2 separate regions of the Homo sapiens genome follow, and region 1 is linked to region 2. The links come from fine-mapping of genetic effects on gene expression. A gene starts in region 2. The other region holds a variant in brackets. All regions are shown on one strand. Distances are between the middles of the regions.

Evidence for each region.
Region 1: its variant is fine-mapped to the expression of SLC15A4 in monocytes after R848 (Quach 2016, PIP 0.95). The same link has a PIP of 0.9 or more in monocytes after Pam3CSK4.

Annotation. Positions count from the first base shown.
Region 1 is chr12:128,785,907-128,802,037 of GRCh38, reverse strand. It overlaps SLC15A4 (solute carrier family 15 member 4), which reads left to right. Exons shown (of 8, transcript NM_145648.4): 6 at 1,029-1,184; 7 at 2,621-2,779; 8 at 7,682-8,844. The coding sequence ends at 7,842. Among named protein-coding and RNA genes, the nearest start is that of SLC15A4, 30 kb to the left of the region's middle. RefSeq lists enhancers at 4,240-4,534, 4,528-4,757, 3,675-4,874, 6,755-6,894, 9,959-10,118 and 4 more. The variant A/G (reference allele first, on the strand shown) is at 6,478.
Region 2 is chr12:128,815,092-128,831,222 of GRCh38, reverse strand. It overlaps SLC15A4 (solute carrier family 15 member 4), which reads left to right and starts at 7,265. Exons shown (of 8, transcript NM_145648.4): 1 at 7,265-7,825. The coding sequence starts at 7,280. It overlaps LOC124903083 (a long non-coding RNA gene), which reads right to left and starts at 7,279. Exons shown (of 2, transcript XR_007063602.1): 1 at 5,333-7,279; 2 at 1,777-3,554. RefSeq lists enhancers at 703-812, 1,383-1,452, 7,355-7,514, 8,995-9,074, 9,135-9,254 and 2 more.

The DNA.
Region 1 (16,131 bases), 29 kb after region 2:
CTCTACTTTGATCCTGGAGAATGTTTTCACTTTGCTTGGCATTTCAGTTGAGATTTGAGGTGGAAATTCCAGAGTTTGTGTTCTCATCGCCCTATGGATCATATCCTGGTCCTTTCTCATGCTCAGGTTTTAGAAGGAACATTTTTAATATTTTCATTCCATTGCCCTCTGACCAGACCTTTCTTCATACTCATGTTTTAAAATAAACATATTTTACATACGCTTTAAATATTAGGGCCTGTGACCTAATTTGCAATAAGAATTCTTTATAAAATAAAACTTGGTGGTATCTTTAACCTAAGGACTTGGACCTGCGAATAGATGCTTTTACACTTTATTTCCAGTGGCTGATTTTTGTTTATAGAGTAGGAGCTGCTGCCCTTGCTTGTTTTTCTCATGTCTTTCTGTTACACTTGATAGGTGACCAGTAACTTAGCCTGCACCTGCAGTGAGATCTCAATGCTGCTGAGAGCACAGGTTGATTTGTGAAGTCAGCTTACTTTGTTGCAAAGATTAAGCCTACCCTATGCAGGGAAACCAACATCATCATCATCATTATTATCATCATTTGTTGTTATAATAATAAATCAGTAGATCACCTTCGATCCATCACTATGATTGGAAGAACATCTCAGTATTACCTGCTGTTGGGTAAAATAGCACTACTGTTAATTCTACAGTAGGACTTTTTAACTTTCTCCTACTCCCCTTTGTAAGAGACAAACGAGGTATGGGTGAGCAATCCAGATATTTGAGGATTAAATGAAACATGTTGAACATCTGATTTTATATAAGATGCTGTAAAAAGCCGAAGTGAAATAGGTGTGCTATGCCATGACCTCCACTCAGCCTGCTTAGGAGGCTGAAGGCTGGGGGCCTATTAGTCCTGGGGGAAGCTGTGATTAGACGTGGTCCTTTCACGCATCAGAATCACGTTTGCTACGAAGTCTCGTAGCCAACATCAGATTTTTAGATTAACTGTAAATGTTAATAAATGAATATTACACTAACCTACTTTTGAATTCTAGGAATTTTGGAGAGTAAAAGGCTGAACCTTGTTAAAGAGAAAACCATTAATCAGACCATCGGCAACGTCGTCTACCATGCTGCCGATCTGTCGCTGTGGTGGCAGGTGCCGCAGTACTTGCTGATTGGGATCAGCGAGATCTTTGCAAGTATCGCAGGTGAGGACCTTTAGTGCCGGAGGTGTCTGAGTCCAGGCACAAGCGTGAGCGCTCGGGCATTCTGACTGTGCTGTTGGAATATGTTGAGACAAGGATAGCACAGCACTTCTGTAGTTTTTGGCAGTGTGTGGTTTAGAATATGAATCGCTAGGTAAACACACCAGTGCTGAGGTTCTCCATTCTTTGTGTAAAAACAGTATCGCAAAATATTTTCATGAAAGTTTGTTAACTACCTTGTAAGTGCCACAGGACAGAGAAGAAGAAAGCAATCGTGGTTGGATAGTTCCCAGCGGAGCCCTCGGCCATGCTGCCGTGGTGGCTGGGCTGAGCTCACAGCTCTCAGTGCGCTTCGTTTAGATGTACGTAAAGAAGCAGATCTAATTTTTAGAAACGTGTTCTCACAGGCCTCCCTTTTCCTATTAGTGAGATCCTGCAGTGGTTGAACAAGTGTATTCTGGGCAGATCTGTCCGGCTGCTGAGAGTGAGAGAGAAGAGAAGATGAGTGATATGCAGAGGTGGATGGATGTGTGGGTAGTAGTCAGTGGTGGTTTTCACTGTAGAAAACTCATCCAGAATTGGCTAATGAATTTGTAAAGGGAATAAATCACAACGGAATGGACTTCTATTTAGAATACACTACAAATCTCCGTGTCTAGTTATAAAAATCTAAATTTATAGATGGGCCTGCCAAAATAGTTTTGAAGTCTATTGCCCTTGTCACGGTGGCTCATACCTGTAACCCCAGCACTTTAGGAATCCGAGGCGGGTGGATCACCTGAGGTCAGGAGTTCGAGACCAGCCTGGCCAACATGGTGAATCCCTGTCTCTACTAAAAATACAAAAAATTAGCCAGGCATGGTGGCACGCACCTGTAATCCCAGCTACTCGGGAGGCTGAGGCAGGAGAATCGCTTGAACCAGGGAGGCGGAAGTTGCGGTGAGCCAAGATCCTGCCATTGCACTCCAGCCTGGGCAACAAGAGCAAAACTCCGTCTCAACAAAAAAAAGATAAAGTATATTGCCTCTGAAATAGAATCCTTATGTAGATTTCCCAGTTTAGTGTGTGTACTTTGTTTTCAAACTCCCATTCCTTGACAATATAGGAAAATTTTTTCTCTAATCTCTTTAAGGAACACAAAAGTCTAAGAGCCAACAAATCACATTACCTTTAAGCTTGAGAGCAAGGAGTTTAACTTTCTGCTCATTGAATTTATTAGGAATTATCCTAATGGCTAGGAGAATGAACAGTTGGCCCATAGCCATTGATTCTTGGTCGCTAGTAAGCATCGTCCTCCTAATAGAAAAGAGGTTGTGCCTGTCTGCAGGACTCAGTCCCTAGGAGACCCCACGCTTCCTCTGCTATATTAGGTGAAAGCTTTGATCCCATGTGTTAAAGTGCCCCTTTCACAAAAACGACCCTCCCTTTTCTTTCCTCAGGCCTGGAATTTGCATACTCAGCTGCCCCCAAGTCCATGCAGAGTGCCATAATGGGCTTGTTCTTTTTCTTCTCTGGCGTCGGGTCGTTCGTGGGTTCTGGACTGCTGGCACTGGTGTCTATCAAAGCCATCGGATGGATGAGCAGTCACACAGACTTTGGTAAGAGCCAGCATCCTGTCCCTTTTGAAAATAGCCAGTGAGGGGGAGGCGCAGGCACTCAGGAGATGGCTGAGTGAGCGGAGGTGTTTTCACGTGGATGGCCTGTCCCGAGCTGCCTGTCCACCGCTCCTTCCACAGCACTGCTCTGTGCTGCTTGCATCACTGTGTTTCCTTACATCATGAACGGTTTTCAGGAGACAAGCAGGCCTCTCTTCTCATCCCAGGGGCCAAGCCTGCCCTGGCCACAGCCCAGCGAGCAGCTGCTGCAGCCACCGCTCCTTACGGGGACGTCCTTGACAGACAAGCACCTTCTCCACGCCCGTCCAGCTCAGTCTTCGTGAGGCAGCTGAATCTGTACCCCAAGCTTCCCTTTCTTTAACTTGGTGGTGTACTTTCGTTTTCTTTTCCTAACAGCACCTTTTCTGATACGAAAAAGACAAGATAGATAGTAAGTTACTTTTAAAAATAAACATATTACTTGTGATCAATCATAATGGGTTTTTACAATTAATACCAGTAGGTGGCATCTTGAGTGTTGAACAGAACCACTCATAAAAGCTGAGTTTTGCTTTCTCCAGGTTTACGATGCCTTTAAATGGACCCAGCAAGCGAAGGTTTCTTCTTTCTTTTCCTTTGTAAAAATATTTTATCTACAGAAACAACCTTGTTACTTTTTCTTGTATAATCATGTGGCATTTGCTCTGGTCCGGTAGTACTTAGCCACTTTTAGGTTACAAATCCCCTTGAGAATCTGGTGAACGTTTAGGGACTTTTCTGCAGAAATTGCAGAATTCCCAGAGCCCTTCCATGAGTATAGGCCTGTGGAGTCCTAATGTAAAGCCCAGAACTCCAAGCCACCAATGTCCCATGGACACTTGTCACTGATGTTTTCTGGCTGTGGGTGCCACCTCCATGGCCAGCTCAGGGCTGCTTGCTCTGAGGAGGACATGTGGATTTGGGGCTGGTGTTTCATTCCCACCTTCTCCTGAAGATGAACAGCCCGAGGAATAAGATCCTCTTGTGGTACATGGGACAGACTTCCTTCAAAGAAAGACCAAAGTCCATAGTTCTGAAGACGAAGATTCTGGTTCTTGGTTTTTGTTTTATCTTTAAATGTGTCATAAAGGATTGGCTGGTCATTCTCGTTGCTTTCTAGTCATTTAATCCTCATTCTTAATTTAATTTCACATCTCAGAGTTGACCTTTCATTCATCATTTCTGTCTGACAGGTTGTTTGTGGACTTCCCCTGCATTGGTGCTCTCAGGGCGTGTGTGCTGGGGATGGGCCAGGATCTGTCTGTTGTTTTCAAGAATGGGAAATGTTTCATGAAGGAGGCGTGTTTGCCAGCAGCCCCCAGGCTGTGCCCCCTGGCTGCATGGCAGCCTCCTTGGTTCACACCAGTAAGGAGAGTTGGAGCTCATCTGTCGAGCAGCCCTTGGCGTCCTGGGTAGAGAAATAAAGGCTGTGACATGGGAAATCCACAGGAAGCCCGCTCCTCAGAGAGAGTTCTCCCTGAATTTGTGTGGCCTTGGAAGGAGCAGCAGCTCTCAGGCCAGGTTCCGGGGGTGTCTGTGCCACCCTTATCCCTGGCCCTACCTCACCATCTCGTGACCGACACAGGAAATAGCTTTCTGTAAAGTCACAGCACTGTGAAGGGAGAGTCCCCAGAGTTTTGTTACATTGTGTTTTTCTTACCGACCTCCCAGCAGGCTCCTTTTATTAGTGTTATTTAAGCTGGGGAGAACGTGCATACCATAGTAAAGGTCTCTAATCTTAAGCACAGCTTGCTGTGTTTGCAGTCTGGATCTCAGTGGAGGAACTTTTGGAAGCCCTCCTTGCCTCTCTCCTTAGTTTACTGCCCCCCTCAGAAGGTAAACCTGTTCTATTCCAGCGTTGGTCCCCACAGGTTACCCTCGCCTGTCCTGTGCTGGGCTGTGGCTGTCTCCTTTCACTTAGCACTTCTGTCTGTGAGCATCTCCCCTGTACTTCTGAGTACTGCTCCTTCGTACGAGCCGTCACGAGGCATTTATCCATGCTGTTGTCGGTGGGTGCCCAGATGTTGGCAGTGTGGGGCTGTTGTGAATACCTGCCCTGCCTGTGAGCCTGGGGGGCGGGTGCGCTCATTCCTTGGGGACCCAAGAGTCTGTCTTGTCAAATGTCAAAACCCTAGTGTTTGCCATCTTCCTGTGTAATTATCCTTCTGTCTGTGAAGAGGCCCAGGAATGCACGGCAGGTTTTCTCCCAGGCGACTTAGGCGTTTCCGAATACCCTGTGTAATGCCACCCTGAGACAGACCCTGACGAGGCGTGGTGTGTCTGCCTGCGGGCTTGGACCGCACCTCCACTCCCGCAGGGCCGCGCAGCCTTCAGTTCATGTGGCCTCAGCCTTCAGTTCACGTGGCCTGCCAGCTTTAGCTCGGGAAGTTTTCAGTGACTGGTACATTTGGGGAGACTCGTATTTCAAAATAGGCACATAAAATGATGTCGTTTATATTTTGATGACAACCTCGTCTCAGTAGCGTCAAATGCCAGTGTTGGGACAGCAGTGACAGCTAGTGCCAGGCTCCAGGAAGCTGGGGTTTGCATTTCCACTGAGTGCCCAGGACAGAGCCTGGTAGGTCGTAAGGGTTGAACGAATAGTGTAAAACATCTGTTGAAAAAATAAAGCTTTAGTCTGGTAGAATTCAGGGTATTAGCAGCTGTCTTTCTAAATCAGTAGACACAGGAAATGATCTTCTTTAATTGGTGTGAATGAGCACTCTTTAAAAATGTGTGAGATCTCACCATACAGATGTGTGGGTTTTTTTTTTTTTTTTTTTTTTTTTTTTTGAGATGGAGTTTCACGTTTGTTGCCCGGGCTGGAGTGCAGTGGTACCATCTTGGCTCACTGCAGCCTTTCACCTCCCGGGTTCAAGTGACAATTCTCTGGCCTCAGCCTCCCAAGCAGCTGAGATTACAGGCGCCAGCCACCACGCCTGGCTAATTATTTGTATTTTTAGTAGAGACGGGGTTTCATCGTGTTGGCCAGGCTGATTCTGAATTCCTGACCTCAGTTGATCACCCACCTTGGCCTCCCAAAGTGCTGGGATTACAGTCATAAGCCACTGCGCCTGGCCCAGACGTGTATTATATTGTGTTTATTTGATAAATGCACTGTTGAACATGCAGTATATGTTCAGATAGAAAAAGGAAGTGCCAGAATAACCCAGCTTTAAAAAGGTCTTCAGAAGAAAGGAAGTCTCACTTTTTAAAATAAACAAATGAGAAAGTGTTTTTGAAGAGGAGCAGAAAATGGAGCAACTTGATTCCAGAGCACTCGCTCCCCTCGTGATGTTGCCGGCCACACGCACCTGCGACCTCGTGCAGAAACGTGCAGCAGTGCTTTCCAGCTGGTGGCAGGTGATGTACATGGTACGGAGACAGAGGGACGCCATGGTGGCAGGAGCAGCCGTGGTGGAGAGCACAGGGCGACACTCGGCTTGGCCTGGATGACCAGTCATGACGAGCTAAAAGTCCTGCCGTTTTCTGCTCACACGTCGTTCCCACGTCTGCACATTGAGTGGTGATGTTAGCCGGTGCTGGCTGAACTCTGTTCTCTGGCGGAGAGACTGCCAGTTTGCAGAGTGGACAGTTCCAGACCTCTGTGAAAGGGGGATCATGACCGTGGCACGTGTTGCTAGCACCCTCACCGCGTCCAG[A/G]CTCCCTCTTGAGTGCCTTTCTGAAATGCTGCTCCTCGGCGCTTTCCCCATTTTACAGATGAGGAAACTGAGCACAGAGGTCTCAGAGGCCGGATTCAAGCCTTATAGCTTGAGCTGCATGGCCCATGATCTTATCCTCTGTGCTGTCCAGCCTGCTTGGGATGCAGACGTTGCGTGTAAAGTGCCTCCATAGTGCCCGGGACTCGGTTGGGTATTCAGTGTATGCTAACTCTTTGTATTAAAGTATGCAGAGGTATCTGCTTGTGTCAGTTTGAGGATGCTAAAACCTGAACATGTTTAAGACACATTCAGAAACCAGCTCATCTCTTCCTTTGATACATTGCCCAGCTGTCGGCCCTGGTGTGTTGGGTGTGTCAGTGACCCATGCAGTGAATCCAGAATTCACGATGTTCAGGCTGTGTCATAGTGCAATCTGTGATGCTAAAAAGTGCACAGGTTCCATAGCCAAGTTACAAAGACGCTCACCTCAGGATTCGATAAAGAGATAGTCAGGCGCTCTTTTGTTATCTTCGCATCTGCCTTCCTCAACAATGCAGTTCCAGGCCAATCATAACTATAAATGGAGGAAGTTCCCCTGAAGTAGTTGAGGAGAGGAACACTGCCTCAGAAAAGGCAGGAAGGAAATAACACCAGACCGGCTAACACTTGTTTCTGGTGGCAAGAACACAGGAAGGTAATTTTTTACTTTGCCCAGCTGTTCTGGTGTGGGGGGATTAGCAGTCACAGGAGGCTGGGTTGGCAGGTTTCCCCTTGCTCCTGATTTGCAGCCTTGTCGTGCGGCCTTAGGCACACTCTCCGTCGACACTGTCCCCTTCACCACCGCATGTGTGTCTGCAGGCCACGCAGGGATTTTCCTGAGTACTGGGGAGCTACCTTTTCTAGTTTCCTCAGGGAACCTCCTCCTTTTACCTTACAGAAGAGAGGGATGGGCTGCTAGGGGCAGGTGGGGGGCTGCAGACAGCCCACCTCCAGAGCCCCCGGTGGCGATGTATCTGACTTCAGGGAGCTTCTTCAGTGGTTTTGAAAGCAAGATGCTTGTGCATTTTGGACTACAGAGACAACATTTGTTACTTTTTTTATGACTCCAGTTAAACCTTAGTGGGAACCAGATTAAATAGTAAAGTCTTGAAAAAATACCTGTAGCAGCGCAGCTTACCTGCCGCTTTCCTTTTGTTTTCTCCAGGTAATATTAACGGCTGCTATTTGAACTATTACTTTTTTCTTCTGGCTGCTATTCAAGGAGCTACCCTCCTGCTTTTCCTCATTATTTCTGTGAAATATGACCATCATCGAGACCATCAGCGATCAAGAGCCAATGGCGTGCCCACCAGCAGGAGGGCCTGACCTTCCTGAGGCCATGTGCGGTTTCTGAGGCTGACATGTCAGTAACTGACTGGGGTGCACTGAGAACAGGCAAGACTTTAAATTCCCATAAAATGTCTGACTTCACTGAAACTTGCATGTTGCCTGGATTGATTTCTTCTTTCCCTCTATCCAAAGGAGCTTGGTAAGTGCCTTACTGCAGCGTGTCTCCTGGCACGCTGGGCCCTCCGGGAGGAGAGCTGCAGATTTCGAGTATGTCGCTTGTCATTCAAGGTCTCTGTGAATCCTCTAGCTGGGTTCCCTTTTTTACAGAAACTCACAAATGGAGATTGCAAAGTCTTGGGGAACTCCACGTGTTAGTTGGCATCCCAGTTTCTTAAACAAATAGTATCACCTGCTTCCCATAGCCATATCTCACTGTAAAAAAAAAATTAATAAACTGTTACTTATATTTAAGAAAGTGAGGATTTTTTTTTTTTTAAAGATAAAAGCATGGTCAGATGCTGCAAGGATTTTACATAAATGCCATATTTATGGTTTCCTTCCTGAGAACAATCTTGCTCTTGCCATGTTCTTTGATTTAGGCTGGTAGTAAACACATTTCATCTGCTGCTTCAAAAAGTACTTACTTTTTAAACCATCAACATTACTTTTCTTTCTTAAGGCAAGGCATGCATAAGAGTCATTTGAGACCATGTGTCCCATCTCAAGCCACAGAGCAACTCACGGGGTACTTCACACCTTACCTAGTCAGAGTGCTTATATATAGCTTTATTTTGGTACGATTGAGACTAAAGACTGATCATGGTTGTATGTAAGGAAAACATTCTTTTGAACAGAAATAGTGTAATTAAAAATAATTGAAAGTGTTAAATGTGAACTTGAGCTGTTTGACCAGTCACATTTTTGTATTGTTACTGTACGTGTATCTGGGGCTTCTCCGTTTGTTAATACTTTTTCTGTATTTGTTGCTGTATTTTTGGCATAACTTTATTATAAAAAGCATCTCAAATGCGAAATCCATGAGCCGGTTCTTTGCGTGGTTTGTCCTCAGTCGCTGCTGGTGTGGCGTGTGGATTCCTCCCCTGTCGTGTAGAAGGCGCAGAGCTTCCCGAGTCGGGAACTGAGGGGAGGGTGGGGAAGTGCGCTCCTGCACAGCCCTCGGATGCTCCGGCGCGTCTCCTGATTCTGCAGCCTCCTCTGCATGGAAGGGTAGTTTCAGCATTTGGAGAAGACAAAAAACAAACCAAAAAACCCTCACGTTGTTGTTCGTTGTGTAATAGAAAGTATAGAAAAACTATAGAAAAATACAAGACATTTCAACCAGTGGAAGTAGGATAGAGTGAATACAGATGACACTCATGGTATCACTGGATCTCAGAGGGGCCGGAGTTGTGAGCCCAGGTTAAAAAAAACGGGGCAGGTTTCGAAAAGCCTTGTGCTACGAAGGATACCACTTTCCGGAGACAGAACTCATGTCTTCAGGATATATCACATGTAAAAATAACCCATGGTGTCAAACAGATTTTCTTCATAAGGCCTTTGCACAAAAGGGGAAAGGCAGGTGGCGTCGGGAGAGCTCTCGGATCCTTCCTCCGGTGCGTTGTGCCCTTGATGCCCCGGGCTGTGTGAACGGTGAGTGAGTAACCACATCCATCCGCTCCGTCTGTCCCGCCAGCCCCTGCTCCTAGCTAGGTGCACCCTCGATGTTACGAGGGAAATTCTCTCCAGAAAGTCAGTTGGAGGGTTGACAGAGTCATCAGGGTACCAGCCTGTGATATTGTGATGAGATAAGAAACAGATGTGGTCTGGGCCCTAAATCCCTGGGACAGAACTCCTGCAACCCCTGTAGATAGGGCACGAGGAGAAGCCCACATTTTCATATTTGCTCTTTGACCCCTTGACCCCAGCTCCTGGCCTAGAGCTGCTAAGGCCTTTGTAATTTCCTGGGTGATGGGAGCATCTTTTGTTCTAATGAGGCCATCTGTGGTGGCTCCTGGACAGCCTCAGGAGAGGGGGTGCTTGCTCGGGGAACCAGTCTGGTGATTGGAGTGGGGGGACTTTCAGCCCTCCCCCTCCCCCACCTCCAGGAAGTTGGGGGGGTGGGGGTAGAAGGTGGAGTCGATCACCAGTGGCCAGTGGTGTGTCATCAGTCATGACTACGTAATGAAGCCTCCATAAAACCCCAGAGGCCTGGGGTTCTGAGAACTTCCTGGTTGCTGAACTCATGGGGGTTCCCCGAGGGTGGCACACCCAGCGGGCATGGGAGCTTCCCGGTCCCCTTCCCACACACCTCACCCTGCACACCTCCATCTGCCGTTCCTCTGTGCCCTTGTCACAGCCTTGATAATAAACGGGCACGCGTGAGTAAAGCGTTTCCCGAGCTCAGAGCTGCTCTGGCAAATCAGCTGAACCTGGAGAGGGAGTTCCTGCTCTGTAGTTGGTCAGAAGCGTAGGTGACAGCCCACTACTTGCGCCTGGCATCTGCCGGGGCGGGCAGCCTCGTGGGCCTGAGCCCTCAGCCCTGGGATCCTGATGCTGCCTCCAGGTGGGTGGTGGCAGGGCATATGCCAGGATATTATAGGATGCTCAGTGTCCGCCGGAGCATCGTGTGACGTGGGGAAGGAGAGCCACTTTCCCATCCTGCATCAGAAGTGTTCTGTGAGAGTAAAGACTGTTTTTTTATCAGACAACTTTTTACATTTTCTTCTGAATTTAGATAGTTGATCAGGTTCACCCTACAGCATGAAGCGGTGATTGAATAAATAAGCATGAAACATGTGCCTGCCCTGAAGACGTCGGTGTGTGTGTAACTGGCTTTTCTTGGCCTCATGAAGCAAACGTCTTCTCGCTCCATGTGAAGATGCTCAGCCAGACTTTCTTTTCGGGGAAGCTGGGCAGGACAGAGCTTTTCATTTCTCCACAGTGTCATGGGCAGATGGGGAGAAAAAGTTCTTAAGACTGACAGGGACCCACTGGGCCTGTGGTCAGTGATCCCAGGGTGAGACTGCGACCGCATGTCCTGCCTGAATTTGCGGACGGGCTGTACAAGTACAGGGTCCCTGGGGCCGGCCTCGTGCCCCCCACCCCCAGGGGCCGAGATGCTGCTTCCCGGAGGATTGGAGAGCGCACAGTACCACATCACATCACACTTCCCAACAGCCCATCATCTCAGAGTCACACCAGGCCCGTCCTGATCACTTCTGAATTCTAGGTAATAAAAAATGGATGATCCTCAATATTACCAATTATTTCACTTGGTGCAAAATCCCATCACCTGGAAAAAAAAGCACATTAAGCAGGAGCGGAATGCTGCAATAATGTGAAACTGCTGTGTGCCGCAGAGTGATACACACTGTTATTAACACGGGCCACATATGTTAATGGGGATTCTCAAACAATGAAGTCACTTGAGTAACTATTTTTAAATGTTCATTCTCACATGTTCTTCTTTTGGAAATAGGGCCTTTTAAAGGAGATAATGCCTACAAAGTGATTTGTTGGACTAGAATCTATTAAGCAAATGAAAAGTACAGAATGTAAAGGGTGAAAGAAAAAGCAGCCGAATGATGGAAAGCTGGATAGTAACAAGAAAACTCAGCATTTGCTGGTTTCCAAATGAGCTAAGCATGCTCAGGTTGTCAAAGGGCTGCATGGAGAGGAAGCCAGCCCAGTGCCAGGGACCTTGTTTTTTCTCTGTTTGACCGAATCCCAAACCAATGCATCGTGAGAGACGTGTCTTGAGACGAGATGAGCAGACACCCCCAGACGTTCAGGGACTAGGCCTGGTCACAGCCTCCCAGTGGTGAGGACGGCACAGAAACCTGTGTTCTGGTCTCTGTGCCGGGCTGTGTCTCTAGTGACATCAAAATTCAGCCACAGAACGCATAGGGAGTTGAGGAGGCCGACAGGTAGCACGGCATTTCCCAGAAACGCAGGATGAGCCCCTTGACCTCTAGGGCTTTGATGGTGGGAGTTGAAGTTGGGCAGGTCCATTGCATAACTCCCCTTACCCATCCCTAGCATCTCCCTGTTGCTTAATCAGAGCTGCTGTCAGGGCAGATTGCTGGAGGTCAGGAGTTTGGGACCAGCCTGGCCAACATGGTGAAACCCCGTCTCTATTAAAAATACAAAAAATTAGCCGGGCGTGGTGGTGCATGCCTGTAACCCCAGCTACTCAGGAGGCTGAGGCAGGAAAATCACTTGAACCTGCGAGGCGGAGATTGCAGTGAACCCAGATCGCGCCACTGCACTCCAACCTAGGTGACAGAGGGAGACTCCGTCTCAAAAAATAAATAAATAAAAACTGTATTGGTATATTAATCCTTTTCTGGAACTCTCAAGTCAATCACGAATCCCTTCTTTCAAGCCTAAAGGACTTCTCCAGACAGCTGTCCAAAAGCGGCTCTGCACGTCTGATTGCAGTGATTGGGGTTGGGAAGGATGCATTTGGAGTCACCTGCGGGTGCTCGGTGAGGGCCTGGATGTTGATGGAGTAGGGACCTGAGGTTCCCAGGCTAAGGAGGTGTCTTGGAAGCCAAGTGAAGGGAGTGTTTCCAGAGGATGGGGTGGTCCACGTGTCACAGGCTCCTGCCGGCAAGCTGAGCTCTGTGTGGGGTCCTGACAGGTTGCAGACAGCTGGAGGAGAGAGGAGACGCCCTCAAGGGACTCACAGAAAAGAGGAATGCAGGGCAAGGGAGGTTTCCACTTTTAAGAATGGAGAAGTGAAAATAAGCTTCTTCCTGAAAGTCTGGCATCGGAGTAAAGTGACTTTTTTTTTTTTTTGAGATGGAGTCTCACTCTGTCGCCCAGGCTGGAGTGAAGTGGCACGATCTTGGCTCAGTGCAACCTCTGCCTCCCGGGTTCAAGCTATTCTCCTGCCTCAGCCTCCCTAGTAGCTGGGATTACAAGTGCCCGCCACCAGGCTCAGCTAATTTTTGTATTTTTAGTAGAGATGGGGTTTCATCATGTTGGTCAGGCTGGTCTCAAACTCCTGACCTCAGGCGATCTGCCCACCTCGGCCTCCCAAAGTGTTGGGATTACAGGTGTGAGCCACTGCACCCGGCCTTTTTTTTTTTTTTTTGAGACGGAGTTTCGCTCTTGTTGCCCAGGCTGGAGTGCGATGGTGAGATCTTGGCTCACCGCAACCTCCGCCTCCTGGGTTCAAGCAATTCTCCTGCCTCAGCCTCCCGAGTAGCTGGGATTAGAGGCATGCGCCACCACCCCAGCTAATTTTGTATTTTTAGTAGAGACGGGGTTTCTCCATGTTGGTCAGGCTGGTCCTCAACTCCCGACCTCAGGTGATCTGCCCACCTCAGCCTCCCAGTGTGCTGGGATTACAGGCATGAGCCACCACGCCCGGCTTTTTTTTTTTTTTTTTTTTTGAGACAGGGTCTCTCTCTGTTTCCCAGGCCGGAGTGCAGTGGTGCAATCATGGCTGGCTGCAGCCTTAACCTCCTGGGATCAAGCAATCTTCCCACATCAGCCTCCAGAGTAGCTGGGACTACAGACACACATTACACCCAATTACTTTTTTATTTTATATTTTGTAGAGTCACGGTCTCACTATGTTGCCCAGGCTGGTTCAAATTCCTGGCCTCAAGTGATACTCCCGCCTCACCCTCCCAAAACACTGGGAATACAGGCATGAGCCACTGCACCTGGTCAGGAATTTAGTAGAGATGGGGTTTCACCACGTTGGCCAGGCTGGTCTCGAACTCCTGACCTCAAGTGATCCACTCGCCTCGGCCTCCCCAAGTGCTGGGATTAGAGGCGAGAGCCACCACACCCAGCCATGTGACTATTATTTTTGTGGGAAAGGGCTGGATTCCTGACCTAGCTCTCTGTGTTTGGTGAAGGCTGGGGTTTGGATTTAGTGAGTCAAAAGTGAGGTGTAAATGGTGCAGATGCTTTTACTGGCCCTTACACACAGCAGGATCCTGAGCCTGGCAAGAGGATGCCATTCAGGGAGAAAGAAGCCTCCAGGTCCTCACTGTTAGCAAAGCCTAAGGGGTAAACAGAGGGGGCTGTGAACTTGGAGGAGAAAAAGAGGGAGTGGAAAAAGCCATGCATCCACACGGCTCTGCAGGACTTAGGGCCAGGCAGGCCCAACCCAGCATGAATGTTCGAGGCCATGGGAGCCAGCCCTCCTGTGACATAGCCACCTCTCAGCATCAGAGAAGTAGATGGCTGCTGTACTGGGCTGACTAATAATAGCCCCAGCCTTCATGTCCATCCAGAACCTGTGACCTCATTTGGACAAAGTGTCTTTGCAGATGGAATCAAGTTAAGATGGGGCCACACTGGATTCATGTGGGGCCTAAATCCAATGTGACTGGTGTCCTTGGAGGAAGGGAATTGGGACCTCCTTAGGGGCTGTCATCCTGCCTGCTCCAGTGGCACAGAAACCAAACTTTGCTGCCTGGCAGCCAAATTCCAGGGTGTTGAAGCCACCTGCGTGAAGCCCTGGCATGTTGTCACAGGAGAAGCTCATCGTCAATCAACAATGCCTTCCTCACAAAGCTGGTAAGAATGCTAAAACTGCTCCCTCCAGGACCGGCAGTGCTAATAGCTTATAAAATTAAACTTCTTTCCTACAGATCTAGACATGAAATTTTATTCTTTATATTACTGCACAAATTTACTTCATGGGTACAGATACGGACATGAACAAAATTACCAACTTTAGAGAACTGAATTAAGAAAAGAGCCCTCCCCGCTCTGAAGTCATCCAAACTCCCCGAGCAGAGAAAACAAGCCCCAGCGGGCCACCTTATTTCCTTTTCATTTTTTGGTCTAGGACTTTAATTTTTCTACATCCTGAACACAAAAGTCGTATGTTCCTGAAGTCAGAAAAACCGCAATAGCCCATTTATACCCACCAGAAGTTAAACCTGTGCTCTGCGTGTTAAGGCTGATGAAGGAGCACTTCATTACGCCACTCAAACTGGAATCCCATCTCCGCCGGGCAGAAGCTCTTCTGGAGAGCTGCTTTTCATGCTCACACTGCAATTTCACATCCATCAGGGAAATGGGAAAGAGGCACTCGGAGCTGTCACTCAGGGATGGGCCACAGGATTTGGACCGAGAGTCCTTTCTGGAGGGGCATGGCCTTCTACACAGAAACCTACAGTAGGCGGGAAGACGCCGTGAGATGGGACGAGGGAGTGAGTGTGCGTGGGATGGGCACAACTTGCCTCGTGAGCAGGTGGACCCTTGAGGGCTGGTGCCCAGGACCACTCCTGCCCAGCACCAACCACTGAGCCCCACCCCTGGGCCCTCGCACCTCCCCATGCCCAGGCCAGGAAATCGTCCCCTCCACATAGGTTTCTTGGAGGGATTATGAGGTTGGTGGGCTGGGGAGGGGCGCCCATTTGTAGATGCCTGATCCTGCTCAGGCACTTTGCAGCATTTGACCACCAGTGTGGATGGTGACCAAAGTGAAAACACCTGCTCCAGGAGCCAGCTGTGCCCCCTCTCCAAGCTGGAGCAGTCTCCCTGGGCCAGGAGGACTCGCCTCTGGCGTTTTTTGCCAGCAGCCTCCGGGATCCCCTGATGATGCTGTCAGCATTCAATTTGGCGGATTTGTCACCCACTGAGAGCCCCTCATGTATTTATTTTATTTTATTATTTTTTGAGACGGAGTCTCGCTCTGTCACCCAGGCTGGAGTGCAGGGGCAAAATCTCAGTTCACTGCAACCTCCGCCTCCCGGGGTCAAGCGATTCTTGTGCCTCAGCCTCCGAAGTAGCTGGGATTACAGGCACCTGCCACCACGCCTGGCTAATTTTCATATTTTTAGTGGAGACAGGGTTTTGTCATGTTGTCCAGGCTGGTCTTGAACTCATGGCCTCAAGTGATCTGCCCACCTCGGCCTCCCAAAGTGCTGGGATTACAGGTGTGAGCCACCGTGCCCAGCCAGGAGCCCCTCATTTAAAATGACCTGCTGGCCAGTGCCAGGAGCCCTGCCCTAAGCAAGCGCCTCACAGGGTCCTTCACCCAAGGCAGCCTCTTAAAGTGAGTTAGTGTTGGGAGCAGGCATTAGATCATGAGCTTGTTCTCCATTAAAAAAACTTACTAAATTGACACAAATTGTATATATTAATATTTATTGTGTACCACACATTCGGAAACGTATACATGGTGGAATGGTTACATCGAGCTAATTAACGTGCATTACTGCACATATTTTACTTGTGATTAATAACACTTGAGACCTCTCATCAATTTCAAGAACATAATACCTTGCTATTAACTATAGCTGTGTTATGCAATAGATCTCTTGAATTTTTTCCATTTTAATTAACTTTGGG
Region 2 (16,131 bases):
CAAAGTGCTGGGATTACAGACGTGAGCCACCACGCCTGGCCTCATTATTTTTAATTGATATAATAATTGTTCATAATTATGGGGCATAAGGTAGGATTTTGAAACATGTACTTCTATGAGATCAACTTTTTTAGCTTCTATATATGAGTGAGAGCACATGGTATGTATCTCTCTGTGCCTGGCTGATTTCACTTCATACAATCAGTTATTTTGTATTAGTGCTTCTGTTCTTGTTCTTTGTATTCATCTTCCTTGATCTTTCCTGTAAGGCCTAATCTAGAAAACAAATACACTTATAATTACCAACGAACTATTATATGATTACAGTTTAGGCTAAGGTTGCTTACAAGGAATTGTGAAAGTGGTGGTTAAAATAGGATCTTAGGTGTGGTCACACCATCTTGCGCTTCTTGCAATAGAAGGAAGCAGAAGTTCATTTTCTTTCACTTACTCTCTCTCTCTCTCTTCACCTCCCTGCTTCTATTGGCGAAGCCCAACTTTTGCACGTCTTGGGGGTTTTTTAAACACAGGTGGAAAAGTACGCAAGAAACAGACGTTGCTACTCGCAAGGGTCAAATAAAATGAGTGCCTGAAACAAGTCAAATCAAAATCAGCTTCCTGACCGTACACTCTCACATCCTCTGTTAAAATAAATGCAAGTCATTCTGGGAGCTGAATTAGTTCATACTAAAAGTAGATTAGTGTGGCTTTGGTTTAGGATCAAGGATTTAACACCTGATTCTATTCCGTTGGTTGCCTGTGTTTTTATTGATTTCACTTTTTATACCTTCTGCTTCTATCAAGAGTATTTGTAGCCAGAAAGAGTGGTTGCAACAGTGACTCCTTGAAGTAAATAGAATTTATGGCAACTCTCTGTACCCAAGGAGATTCAAAAGATGTGTGGCATGGCCTGTGGCTGTACTATGGCTAATGACTTATGCTATGGCCTGATGCACAAAGGTGAGGGGGCCTATCCGAGTCCCTCCCTAGGGATCTGGGAAATTGGAGAAGCTGAAGCACTGGCCGTGAGTGCTGAGGCTGAGCTGAGCTGAGGCTGAGCTGTCATGACTCAGGGGGCAGGTGTTCAACAGTTGTTTGTTGAGTGAGTTAGTGATGTACAGATGGCACAGAAAGGCTATGACAGCTGCTTCTAACCCGAAGTTTTGAGGAAGCTGAAACTGTCAGTAAGGAGAGGCAACTGTCTGGCGGTGAGGAGTGAGCAACTCAACAGAGATGTGAAACTACGGCAGAAATGTCATGAAACAGCCAGAGGAGTCAGGCAGTCCCCTGAATGTCCTGTCTGTGACGGTTTCTCAGTTCACTGCCTTAAATCACACCCACTCGAGCTCTGCACTGGGTGAGGCTCAGGAGACAAAGTGGTACCAGAGAAGGGAGAACCCTGTGTTTCCAAGTCTAGTCCACACCACAGGCACCTTTGCAAAGAGTGTCCTTGCCCCTTTTCTAGAGGGCCCTTGAGGTGAAGAGCCAATAGACAAAAATGTTATTTTGGAAGACACGGTTACCTATCCCTTAGATGCCTACTGTATGGGTTGGGTCATTTATTAATTTTAGCTGCAAAGGAGAGACTCATAGGATCACTTTTTGGGGCAGAAGTATATTGCGAGCATATCCAATAAAGTGGGAGGAATCACCTTACATCAATTCTTTAGCTATACCATCACTGGGGGCTCAGTACAGGGGCTGCAAACCCAATCATTACAGAAGCCCAGCAGAAAACTCATGGGTCAGGCATGAGAAAAAAATCAGGCTGGCCTCTCTTGTTCCTTAATTTTTTTATTTTTTATTTTTTGAGACGGAGTCTCACCCTGTCGCCCATGCTGAATGCAGTGGTGCGATCTCGGCTCTCTGCAACCTCTGCCTCCTGGGTTCAAGCAATTCTCCTGCCCTAGCCTTCCAGTTCTTTTATTTTTTCCATTTTTGATAGAATTATGATAGGTGGCTTGGGGCCACAAGTAATACAAATAACAGAAAACCCAACACAGTGGCTTAAACAATGTTAAGACTTATTATCTCACTTCTCCCTGAGTCTCCTGTGCCATCCCCCAAGTCAGTCTCATCCTAAGCTGGTTCATCTCATGGTTGTCAATAGCCATCAGGAGCTATTAGAGCTGCAGGTTTCCTAACTCACATCCAGTTTGGGAGCATGTGCCTCGCCCACAGTCAGCCAATAAGTGGCCTTGCCTCTAGTCTGACTGGGTCAACTTACCTCATTTGTCCACTGCTGGGTCAGTAACCGCAGGCACCAGGGAAATTTCGTGTCCTGAAAGGTTAGAGTCTGCGTTCCTGAACTGGTCACCATGAAGAGGCATGAGACTAGTACTGGTGTGGGCTAGTTCTATCTGGGAACAAGGATGAAGTCAGGTTCTCCTGAGCTACATGGGAAGCTGGTGGGGACAGGGGTGGGTTAAGGAAGACAAATATGTGAAGAGAATCAGGATTGTTTGGAAAAAGAAAGAGTATGGATGTTGGCTAATTAGTCAATCATATCCATTACATTTTAGTACGGAATGGAGTTGCTGGCCGGGCGTGGTGGCTCTAGCCTGTAATCCCAGCACTTTGGGAAGCCAAGGCAGGCAGATCACCTGACTTCAGGAGTTCAACACCAGCCTGGCCAACATGGTAAAACCCCACCTCTATAAAAAATATAAAAATTAGCTGGGTATGATGGCAGATGCCTGTAATCCCAGCTACTTGGGGGGCTGAGGCGGGAGAAGCACTTGAACCTGGGAGGTGGAGGTAATGGTGAGCCGAGATGGCACTATCGCACTTTAGCCTGGGCAACAGAGCAAGACTCCGTCTCAAAAAAAAAAAAAAAAAAAAAAAGAATGGGGTTGCTGATAGAAGTTACTGCAATGATGGTGTGAAATAGACTATGCTGTCCAATACGGTAGCCACTAGCCACAAACCACTTGCAATATGGCTAGTGTAACTGAGGAACAGAATTTTTCATTTTATTTAATTTTAACTAGTTTCAATAGCCACACATAGCTAGTGGCTCCTGCGCTGGACTATGCAGATATGGAGAATTTTCTCTATGATAACAAAAATAAGACAATAGTGAGTGGGGAGGGTTTAGGAAAGCTAGAAAGTGTCTGCCATCTAAAGACAGTGGCTGCTGCTGAGTGTCAGCAGATTGTGGCTACAGGGGGAAGCAAATGTGTTTCCATTACCTGTTGCTACATAATAAACTGCCCCAGAATTTAGTGGCTTAAAAGAACAACCATGTTATTTGTTTACAATTCTGCTATCTGGGTTGAGGCTCAGCTGTGTGGTTCTTCTGCTGGTCTTCACATGGCTGCATTCAGTAGGCAGGTCATCTGGAATGCTGAGAATCCCCTCTCCACATAGTTGCAGACTCCTCCTCAACATATGATGGAAGGCAGGTGGACGTCTAATATGATGGCTCCGGACACCCCAGTCATGAAAGTGGAAGGTGTCAGACTTTAAGCCTGTGCCCAGACCAGGCCCAGAGACACTTTTGATGTATTCTCTTGGTCAAAACAGGTCACAGGACAGGCCCTGTGGTGTGATCTCTGAGGAATACATAAAGGCTTGAATACTATGGGGCATGGTTCAAAGTGATGGGATCATACTAATGTAACAGGTAATCACAAGTCCAGCATTGCCAGAGCTCACATTTATTTTCCCCAAATAGCAAGGCATCCAAATTTATATGTGAAACCTTTCAAACTGTAACTATTAGTTCACTTTCTTTTGGTACCAGCTTTATGGAGACATATTCGCATACCATATAATTCACTTATATAAACTGTAGAATTCAGTGGTTTTTTAGTACATTCACAGAGATGTGCACCAATCTTCCCCTCCCCTCCCCCAGTATCAGGAAACTGTACTAATCTGCATTGTCTGTATGGATTTGCCTATTGCCTATTCTGGCCATTGCATATAAATGTGATCTTGCCAGATGTGGTCTTGGCTCACTTTTTTGTTTTTTTAAACTTAGCTTTAGTTTTCTCAAATGAGGCAATGCAATCGGATTAGTTTACTATCATTCAAAAATGGCAGAGTGTATTGAGCACTGTTTGGACACTGGGTTATCACATGATTCAAATCATTTGCTTTGCTTTCATTCCATGTTTAATGTTAATTTTACTCTAGACTTTGCCTGAGCGTCAAACCTATCAGTCTTAGAAAAAATACTCAAAGATTCTGTCTCCTCTACCAACTGCAAAGTGGAAGCAGCACTGGACTCATAATTAGATATAAGCCTTTCATTGAAGTCTGAGTTCTATTGCTTTCTTTTTTATTTTTTATTTTGAGACAGTTTCGCTCTATCACCCAGGCTGGAGTGCAGTGGCGTGATCTCGGCTCACTGCAACTCCACCTCCCAGGCTCAAGCGATTCTCCTGCCTGAGCCTCTTGAGTAGCTGGGATTACAGGTGCGCAACACTACCGCCTGGCTAATTTTTGTAATTTTAGTAGAGATGGGGTTTCACCATGTTGGCCCGGCTGGTCTTTAACTCCTGACTTCAAGTGATCTGCCTGCCTTGGCCTCCCAAAGTGCTGAGATTACAGGCATGAGCCACTGTGCCACTGCACTCCAGCCTGGGTTACAAGAGCGAAACTCCATCTCAAAAAGAAAAAAAAAAAATGGCACATATGTGTGTGTGTGTGTCTATATGTACATGTTCAAGGACATATATTAGTATCCAATAATAAGTTAAAATACTAATATATGCCCTTGAACATGTATAGACACATATATATACACATGTATACATGCACACATATACACACACTTATATACACACATATATACATATATACACACAGATATACATATGTGTATACACACACATATATGAGAACATAAGGTGACTTGCATCATTTACATTCAACAAATGGTCAGTCATTCACTCATCCAGTTCAATCTAATACCTATTTATCATTGGCAAGTGCTGTGCCAGCCTCTAGAACTACAATCGTGGTTAAAACAAAGATCCCGGCCATCCCAGCTTTGAAGACAGGCATTCAATAGTTGCACAAAATAAGTATAAATTATAACCGGTGCTGTGGGAAAAAAGTATAGGGAGTTCCAAGGCCATAAAAACGGGGAGCTAACCTAGTGTGGCAGGGTTAGGAAAGTGATATTTGAGCTGACAGCTGGAAATGACAAGCATCAACAGACAGGTGGCAAAGGTCCAATTCGGGCATTCAATTATTCTCTCCTTAGACATTGATTAAATATATATTGCCTGCTGTGTGGCAGCACTGTGCTGACCATCAGTCTATCTGTCGGACATTTAAAAAAGTTTTTTAAAAAGAGAATGCATGCAACTTCAAGACTTACTGGCAGGATTACTTCTCCAGATGACCTACTGGCAAGCCAACTTCCCAGCTACTGGCTCCACCCTCATCTTAGCTGGAGGGAATGATGAAGGAAGAGGAGGTGGTCTTACACTAATTGAATCATTGCAGCAGCTGTGGATCACGATTCCTTTCTTTCTTGCCTTTTTTTTTTTTTTTTTTTGAGACAGGGTCTCACTATGTCACCCAGGCTGGAGTGCAGTGATGCCCTCACTGCTGAATGCAGCCTCTACCTCCCGGGCTCAAGCAATCCTCTTGCCTCAGCCTCCCAAAGTGCTGAGATTATAGGCGTGAGCCATCATCCCAGGCCGGGGTCTCAATTTCTTTTTTTTTTGTCTTTTTTTTTTTTTTTGAGACGAAGTCTCACTCTGTCACCAGGCCGGAATGCAGTGGCACAATCTCGGCTCACTGCAACCTCTGCCTCCCTGGTTCAAGCGATTCTCCTGCCTCAGCCTCCTGAGTAGCTGGGACTACAGGCGCCTGCCACCACGCCCAGCTAATTTTTGTATTTTTAGTAGAGACGGGGTTTCACCATGTTGGCCAGGATGGTATCGATCTCTTGACCTCGTGATCCGTCCGCCTCGGCCTCCCAAAGTGCTGGGATTGTAGACGTGAGCCACCATCCCAGGCCGGGGTCTCAATTTCTGAAGCCATGCTGAGGGCCATTTTTGGGCGGCACTCTTTCACTCCACTATGTGCCAGGCGCTGTCCCAGAGGCAGGGGGCACAGTGAGGAACAAAACACAAGAGAATCCTGCCATCAGGAAGCTTACACCTGTTAACACATGCAGGTTGGGGAGATAAACGAATAAATTAAAAAATGTAACAGGTAATAAGGAGAAAAGAGTAACATGATGGAATGGGATACTCGGGCCTTGGACAGGCTAGTGAAAAAAATGTTTCTCTGAAGTCAACACTTCGGTGGAAGGTTGAAGGATGAGAAGCCAGCCATGCAACCATAGATGGTGTAGGGGCAGTCTCTGGGAAAGCCTGAAACAGGCTGGAGCTTGCCTTGTTCTAAGCCAGTGAGTCTCAATGGGGGCGTATTTGCCCCCAGGAGTCCTTCGGCAAAGTCTAGAAGACATTTTCGGTTGTTAACCTGAGGTGCTAGGGGGTGGAACTGGCCCCTAGTGGATAGCAGAGGCCAAAGCTGCTGCTGAACATCGTGCAACGCACAGGACAGTCCCGTCGCTCAAAGTGCCAACGATGCACGGGTTGAGAAACCGGGTCCTCTCCAGGACTGAAGCCCAGGGCAGGGAGCACGGGGGCAGCCTGAGCAAACCCGCCTGGAGAGCAGCCGCCGTCTCAGTGTGAGTTTTGGCTGCCTACTGGGCCCCACCGAAGCCCGAAGAGGGCCAGGCTCCGGCTTCTTTGTTTAAACTCCCTTAGTCCGACTGCCTGCAGTGGCTCATGCACGTAATTCCAACACTATGGGAGGCTGAGACGTGAGGAACGCTTGATGCCAGGAGTTCGAGACCAACCTGAGCAACAAAGCGAGACCCCATTTCAAAAAACTGTTTAAAAATTAGCCACAGGCAGCGGCGAGCGCCTGCGGTCCCAGCTACCCGGGAGGCTGAGGTGGGAGGGCCGCTTGATCCTGGGAAGCTGAGGCTGCAGTGAGGCGTAACCGCATGACTGCGCTCCAGCCTGGGCGAGAGAGGGAAACCCTGTCTCAAAAAGGCAAACAAAGGCTCTCGGCCGCCAAGCTGCGGAATCCCAAGCTCCCCAAGACACGCAGTGATCCAGAATACCGGCCACCTCCTCGCCTAGTGCCCGGGGCGGGGCCGGAAGTTCCGGCGAGTGGGGCGTTGAGCAGCGGCGAGCCCGCCCAATAGGGACATCTCAGGCCCGGCAGTCTCGCGAGAAGGGCGGCGGCCCTGGGTTCTGGGACAGGTGACCCGGCGGCGGGGCGAGGCAGCTGGCGGCGTCGCATGGAGGGCTCTGGGGGCGGTGCGGGCGAGCGGGCGCCGCTGCTGGGCGCGCGGCGGGCGGCGGCGGCCGCGGCGGCGGCTGGGGCGTTCGCGGGCCGGCGCGCGGCGTGCGGGGCCGTGCTGCTGACGGAGCTGCTGGAGCGCGCCGCTTTCTACGGCATCACGTCCAACCTGGTGCTATTCCTGAACGGGGCGCCGTTCTGCTGGGAGGGCGCGCAGGCCAGCGAGGCGCTGCTGCTCTTCATGGGCCTCACCTACCTGGGCTCGCCGTTCGGAGGCTGGCTGGCCGACGCGCGGCTGGGCCGGGCGCGCGCCATCCTGCTGAGCCTGGCGCTCTACCTGCTGGGCATGCTGGCCTTCCCGCTGCTGGCCGCGCCCGCCACGCGAGCCGCGCTCTGCGGTTCCGCGCGCCTGCTCAACTGCACGGCGCCTGGTCCCGACGCCGCCGCCCGCTGCTGCTCACCGGCCACCTTCGCGGGGCTGGTGCTGGTGGGCCTGGGCGTGGCCACCGTCAAGGCCAACATCACGCCCTTCGGCGCCGACCAGGTGAGCCGCGCCCCCGCGCGCTGTCCCTGTCCCTGTCCAGCCCCTGCCCAGCCCCAGCCTCTTCCCCTGCCCCAGTCCCTGCCTCTGACCGCGGAGGGAGCCCCTTGCCCCGGGGGGCTTCTGTCTAGTGCCGAGGAATCCCGCCAGCAGGTGGGCCAAGACTGGAGGTACCGGTGTGATGGGTGCTGGAAGGGGTTTGCCTGGGGCGGGGTGAGGTCTACACACACAGTGATGGCCACAGTGGCTTTAAAGAAAAGAGAGGCCGGGCGCGGTGGCTCACGCCTGTAATTCCAGCACTTTGGGAGGCCGAGGCGGGAGGATCTCTTGAGCCCAGGACTTTGAGACCAGGTTGGGCAACACAGTGAGACCTCATCTCTACCAAAATTTAAAAATTTGCCCTCCGTGGAGGCGCACACCTGTAGTCCTAGCAGAGAAAGGAGGATTCCTTGAGCCTACGAGTTTCGGAGGCTGCAGTGAGCTAGGGTCACACCAGTGCACTCTAGCTTGGGTAACAGAGTGAGACCCCACCTCAAAAAAATAAATAAATAAAATTTAAAAAATACGCTGAGCGCAGTGGCTCACGCCTGTAATCCCAACACTTTGGGAGGCCGAGGTGGGTGGATCACCTAAGGTCAGGAGTTCGAGACCAGCCTGACCAGCCTGGCTAAAAATACAAAAATTAGCCGAGCGTGGTGGCGGGCACCTGTTCTCTCAGCTAGTCGGGAGGCTGAGGCAGGAGAATCGCTTGCACCCGGGAGGCAGAGGTGCGATGAGCCGAGATCGCGCCACTCCACTCCTCCAGCCTGAGCGACAGAGCGAGACTCTGTCTCCAAATAAAAATAAATAAATAAATAAAAAATAAATGAACGGGACCCTTCTATGTTCAGGCCCTGTAAGTTCAGACCAGAAGGCTAGGAAAGAGCAGTTGTTTGAGGAGCTTTCCAGACATGGGGATTCGCAGGTGCAGGGCCCTGGGCCAGGAAGCTGAGGGAAGGGGAAGCCCCCGTTGTTGCCTTAGCTTCCTTTACAAAGAAGTGGGAAAACACTCATATTGCGTCTTCGTGGCTTTAAAGGAGTTACGGGCTAGGTTGGGTCGGAAAGCTCAGATGAAAATGAGTTTGAATCAAGTTAGCATCAAGCTGCTCCCCTGCAACTGTAACTGCCAAGAAGTGAGGGAGGAACCACTGCAGCTCTTCAGGAGGGGCAAGGACGTGGCCACCAAGTATTATATGCAGAATAGGCCGCCTTTAAGAGCAATAGCAAAGTCAGATCGTTTCAGAAAATATAAAAAAAAGTGGGAAGTGAGGTGGAAGGCTGGGGCCGGATCATGTGAGGAGTGTTAAAGCGTTGGGGATACAGTCGAGAGCTTTACTGGGTTCCAGCAGGGAGTGATTTGTGCAGAGCAGGCACTACAGCTGGGGTAGCAGGTCAGGTCTGCTTCTTATTTTCTGAGGATTCACAAGCTAAGAATGGTTCTTAATATTTTCTTTCTTTCTTTTTTTTTTTTTTTTTTGAGGCGGAGTCTCGCTCTGTTGCCAGGTTGGAGTGCAGTGGCGCGATCTCAGCTCACTGCAACCTTCACCTCCTGAGTTCAAGCGATTCTCCTGCCTCGGCCTCCTGAGTAGTTGAGACTACACGTGCACGCCACTGTGCCCAGCTAACTTTTGTATTTCTAGTAGAGACGGGGTTTCACCGTGTTGGCCAGGATGGTCTTGATCTCTTGACCTTGTGATCTGCCTGCCTCGGCCTCCCAAAGTGCTGGGGTTACAGGCATGAGCCACGGCGCCCAGCTAGTTCTTACATTTTTAAGTGGTCGGAAACGGGATCATTTGTGACCAGTGAAAATTTTATGAAAATCAAATTTCAATCTCCATAAATAAAGCGTTATTGGAACATAGCCCCACCTGTTTCTGCAACACAGCCACTACACTGGGGCTGCTTTCACTAAGCAGTGGCAGAATTGAGTAACTGTGATGGAGACGAGATGTCTCATAGAACTCAAAATGTGAACTGCCTGCCCCTTCACAGAAGTGTGCGGATGCTTGTAGAGAATGGGTTGTGTAGGAAGTGGTGACATTAGGGACATGAGGTGGGAGTCTCTCCTAACTAGAGTGGAGGCAGTGGAGGTGGGTGAAGTGGATGGATGGAGTTCAGCTATGGAAGTAGAATGGGCAGGAAGTACTGGCAGGTTGTCTCCCTGTTTGTGTTCCTATGTAGGAATACCTGAGGCTCAGTCATCTATAATGGAAAGATGTTTCTTTGGTTTAGGGTTCTGCAGGCTGTACAAGAAGCAGGGCGCCAGCATCTGCACTGCTGAGGGCCTTGTGAATGGGAGCCAGCTGTGTAGAGATCACATGCACTAGAGGAAGTGAGAGAGGGGAGGGAGGTGCCAGGCTTGTAAACGACCTCTCTCATAGGAGAGTTCACTCCTGTGACAGCCCCAAGCCTTTCTTCAGGGATCCGTCCCCATGACCCAAACACTAGGCCCCACGAGAAGCACTGGGGATCACATTTCTTCATGAGGTTTGGAGGGTCAGATATGGAAACCATGGCATGTGAGCAGTAGGGAAGGCGACTCTTAGGCTTTTGCCTAAGTATCTGTGAGTGCCTGTTTTTTAGGAACATTTACTGAGAGCTTACTGTGCACCAGGCACAGTGCTTGCTAAGTACCTAAGTACAGTATCTGGTTAGTCCACATGACACGTATGCTACATGTCTACATGTCTACACGACTACTTAGTCTACATGACACGTACGGTGCCCATTTTACTGATGAGGAAACTGAGGCTTGAGAGGTTTAATCATTGGCCCAAAGTTACACAGCTTGTATGTGACTGAGCCAGGATTCAAAAGCCTGTCCTTTGAATGTGAGCTTTCACTCTGCCTGTGTAAGGCTATCCGTTACAGTCAGGAGACACCTTAGAATGACGTTAGAAATGATAGTTTCTAATGTACTGAATTGGAACTGGGTTTTTTGTACAGTGGCGTATGCTTTACATATGTGACGAAATCTGAACCTCACAGGAGTCTTAGATCCACTTTACTGATGAGGAAACAGGCACAAAAACAGATCACTTTCTTACTGCCTGTAGGTAGTGAGTGGTCAAGCTGGACTTCTATCCCAGCTCTGGTTCTTTTTTAGCTACCACACTAAGATGGGCCCAGTGTGCGTGCGTTCCGTAATGGTTCTGCAGGGCTGGATCTCAAGGCCCAGGCTCTTGGCCTTGGGGTGCCATTGGCTCATGAAGGAACGGGGCTGGTAGCACAGTCAGCCTCTATCTTTTAAAGACTTGGCCACCCCACACAGGTGTACTGGAAAGCTTCTATTATGCCTCTTACTTGTGCCTTTCCCACGTGATCTTATTTAAGCCTCGCCACAGTTGCTGGTGTGTGTGCTGCAGTTAAGCCTGTTGTCCAGGGAACAGAGGCCTAGAGGGTTAGCTCCCAAGGCTGCACAGCAGGTGCCTAGGGGAGCTGGTTTGGGGCCCTGGCAGCCTGACTTAAAAGCTGGTGCTCTCCAGGATATAACAGGCGAGTAATTGATACTTCTTAAAATGAGGAGGAAATGGTGCTCGGTTATCTCAGATGAATCTGACAGAATATGCGCTCTTTCATCCATAATTAAATGTGGATGTTGAAAGGAGATGTGCCTTCTTCCGAAAGATAGCTGGCCTGATCTCTTCCGACGTAATGCTGTCATGTTAAAAGAGGACCTTGTGGATGAAAGGCTACTCGGGAGACCTGGCCGCCCCCTGCAGCGCGTGCTGAGTGATTGGATCCCAGCTGCTTTCATGGCCGTTCTTCTTGGATGCTTGGGATAGTTTGTAGACCGCCTATTAGCTAATAATGGACCAATGTTGCCTTTCTTAGGTGTGGTAATTTCACTGCCGTTAAAAGAATGTCCTTATTTCCAGGAGATTCATGATGAAATTTTGGGGGTGAAATTGGTTGCTGGAGCTTATTTGTATGTAGATCACCCAGAAGTATTTTTTTTTAAGACCAAGTCTTATTCTCTTGTCCAGGCTGGGGTGCAGCGGTATGATCTCAGCTCACTGCAACCTCTGCCTCCTGGTTCAAGCTATTTTCCTGCCTCAGCCTCCTGAGTAGCTGGGACTACAGGTGTGAGCCACCACGCCTGGCTAATTTTTGTATTTTTAATAGAGACGGGGTTTCACCATGTTGGCCAGGTTGGTCTCGAACTCCTGACCTCAGGTGATCCACCTGCCTCGGCCTCCCAAAGTTCTGGGATTACAGGCGTGAGCCACCGCGCTCGGCCAGTATTTTTTATGTATAGAAAAAAGTGCTGAGGCTCCAAGTGAAGGGTAGAGAGGTGTGCATTTTGCAATTCAACTTTTCTATACATTTGGAATTTTTTTAAATGAAAGATAAGAAAATGTTCACTGATGAATGTATAAACTAAATATAGTATATCCATACAATGGCATATTTTTCAGCCATTAAAAAAGAAATGAAGTACTGATGAGCCTTGAAAACATTCGGCTGCATGAAGGAAGCCAGACACATAAGGCCCCAGTTGTGTGATTCCATTGATGTGGAATGCCCGGAAGAGGCGAGTCCACAGAGACTGGAAGTAGATTAAGGGTTGCCACGGGCCAGGAGAGGGGCGTGGGACTGACTTAAAGGGAACAGGAGTTCCTGTTGGTGTGATGAGAATGTGGACTTGGATGGCAGTGATGGCTGTACATCTCTGAATATACTAGACACTACTGAATTGTACACTTTTGAAGGGTGAATTTTATGGTATGTGAATCATAGTGAAAAAACATTTGAAGGGAAAAGTACCCTTATGCCAGGGTGCTTGCCCGTGACCAGGTGGCAGGTCCCCCTCCAGGTGCGGCTGCTTCATGGCAGGAGGCCTGGCTGGGGACCCTGAGGTGTGCAGGCCTGAAGTACACTCTGTTGTGCCCCAGGCGAGGGTTAATTTGTCCTGGTTTGGTCCTTTTCATTTAGAGGAAACCTGTTTGTATTTTTAAGGTGCTTTTTATGGTTCTTTGTCACTTACCTCTTCATCTCCCAGGTAGAGCCTCTGGGAAACATTCTGATAGGAGAGACAATGGGGTGAGGCTGCATAGCTTTGAGAAGGAGGCCTAGTTGGCTTCTGAAAGAGGATGTGTGAGCTGTGAGTCCAAGGGAGACGTATGTTCGTGTAAATCATGTCAGGCCGTATCTTCCCCCAGTGTTTCACCTTTTTCAAAGGTCACAATCGTTCTTGGTGGATGGATTATTTGAAATAGTGACCTGAAAGACGAAAATCTTATGTTACAGATGAAAAGAGCAAATGATGCATTTTTTTTTTTTCTAGAGGAAAAACTGACACCCCATTTTAAGGAATTCTTCTGTCAGCCAACTGTTTGGTATGCTGTACACAATTCTATTCTTTTAGCTTTTCTTCTCCAAATTGATTTTGGTGGTATCTTTTGGCCAGTCATGTGAAAACCTTGTTTACCCTTGGTAGGGCACGTAGCTGCAGCTCACACAGTGATGTCATGCAAACGATGGGCAGGAGGTTGTGGCCTGCTCGCCAGGGGCTGGGAAGCATGTGATGTCCCTTCACAGCAGCCAGGTTCCCTTGGTACAGAAATGCCTGCTGTGTGGTTATTTAGGGCTTAGTAATTTTGGCTTATAAAGTAATTTTGATGGATTACTCTTGGAGTTGGAATAAATTGACCACCACAATTACACAGGAAATGAGGATGAATGGCATTTTAAGGTTAGGATTTTCCCAGAGTAATCAAATGCTGATATTTTCATGCTTCATCTGAAGAGGACATAAGTCTGAGACTGTGGGAAGATATGTGCAGTGTCACTGTGGGTAACGGGAAGGCCCGAGTGAGACCGTGGGAAGGTGTGTGCAGTGTCACTGTGGGTAATGGGAAGGTCCGAGTACATTTCAGTTAGGAAATCATTTGTGCCTCTATTAAGTTTATATACTATGTTTACTGGCCTCTTTTATGCTTGTCAAAAAATTACTTTTTGTTTGTTATTTTTTCGCACTTCTAGTTTTGTTTTCTCAGTAACCATTTCTCTGCTCACATTTTTCATTTTTCTTCCTGGTCCATGTCTAGTATAGCATGAGAATTGGTGTCCACTGTTGAGCAATATTTAAATGCATTGTGTCCTAGTGAAGAAGTGTCTTAGATGTCTGTGAAGTTCTCACCTCAAACTCTTTATTCAGTAGAGATGTCTGCATTTGGTCTAGGACCTCTGTTCAGTATTGTAATAGATAAGAGAAAAGTTTAAACTCTTGAGAATAAGTGATTTTCTTTTAAATTTAGATTTTTCGTTTGAAGTGGTGTTACTATATATAATTAATTACCTGCCACCATAGTGGCCATGCTTAATCATTTGGACTTCAAACAAATCTCTTTTTGAGGAGCACACAATTTTTTTTCTTTTGCTCTATTTCCTTTAGAGAGGAACACACAATTTTAACTATAAATTTTACTCCTCTGATTTAATCTTTAAAAAATAGAGTTTAAAATACCATATCAAATATATGACTGCTAAAAAGATGCATGTGCTTATTACATACCATATCTTTTTTTTTCTTTTGAGACAGGGCCTCTGTCGCTTAGGCAGGAGTGCAGTGGTGCCATCACAGCTCACTGCCACCTCCTCCCCAGTTCAAGGGATCCTCCCACCTCAGTCTCGCAGGTAGCTGGGACTGTAGGCGCACACCACCGCACCTGGCTGATGTTTGTAATTTTTTGTAGAGATGGGGGTCTGTCTGTGTTCCCAGGCTGCTCTCAAACTCCTAGACCCAAGCGGTCTGCCTGCCCTGGCTTCCCAAAGTGCTGGGATTCCAGACCTGAGCCACCATGCCCAACCGTAATTGGTTGTTTTGGCCCCATTGAGAATGTGTTATTCAGTAGAGCAGATTGTTCTATGGATCCAGAAACTAGATCTATTATTAGAATAAGAATTTTCTAACTCTTTCATAACCTGTGACTTAAGAATGAGACAGTAGAAGTTTTTAAGACAGCAAGAGAGTCTTTTTATGAGATCCAGTATCAGCCTCTCATAAGTTTGTTAAAAATAAATTTATGAAATGAAACTCACTAGAAATGTCTCTGTCTAGTACAGGGTTCATTTGCACAGTATCTTATTTAGACGTAAAAATCCAGGTGGGCAGAGAAGGCTTCTGGTGTGTCTGCCCCCAAATGACCTGTTCCCACCGCTTGGGCTCCATTGAAGTAGCCTCGTGAACTCCATAAGCCTAGATGTTGCGTTATTACCTCAGTGCTTTTGTTTGAGTCCAGGAAGTCAGTGATTTTTGAGCCTTTTGGAAATCCCACCCTTATCAGAATTTCTCCGATTCCATTGATAGCCTGTCTAATCTAAAAATAGCATGTGGTTTTATCTTTAGTCTATAATTTCCTCTTTGCTTCAAGTTTACTGAGATCTCTGATTCTCAGGAGACCAGATACAATTGGTGTGGGTGGTGACTTGGCCTCACTGAACAAATGTCTCTCTTTGGGGCCTAAGCATATTTGTGGGGTGCCTCATGGTACTTGCATGTAGCTCAGTAAGGCATGGAGCTTTATAACATTGGTTCTAAAACTTACCTGTGAGTAGAAGTCACCTGGGAAGTTGCTTGAAATGCAGATTCCTGGGCCTGGGCCCCAGAGACCGTGATTCAGTAGGTCTGGAGCGTGGGTCCTGTGACTGTGTTTGTTTTTTGTTTGTTTGTTTGTTTGAGATGGAGTTTCACTCTTGTCAACCAGGTACAGTGGCACAGTCTCGGTTCACTGCAACCTCCATGTCCTGGATTCAAGCGATTCTCCTGCCTCAGCCTCCCAAGTAGCTGGGATTACAGGTGCCCACCACCATGCCTGGCTAATTTTTGTATTTTTAGTAGAGACGGTGTTTCACCATGTTGGCCAGGCTGGTCTCGAACTCCATACCTCAAGTGATCCACACGCCTCAGCCTCCCAAAGTGCTAGGATTATAGGCGTGAGCCACCATGCCCAGCGGACTCTGTTTTTAAAGAGCATTCCAGGTAATTCCAAGGCAAGTGGTTCAGGTACTTAGAAAATTCTACAGCAGAATATACTTGGAAAAACTCTCTAGCATTTGTTGGAATTTAGTGTAATTAAGTGAAACCTACCTAGCAACTGTAGTAATTAAAAGCGTGGGGTGTGCTTTTTGTTGAGATCCGTGAATGTTTCTGTAAACACAATTTTGATTGTGTTGCGCTTCTTAAAGGTTGTGATGACAACGGTAATTTTAACCACTTGACCGTATATGGTTTTCATCCTTGAAGACTGTCATATATTTTCAAGTGT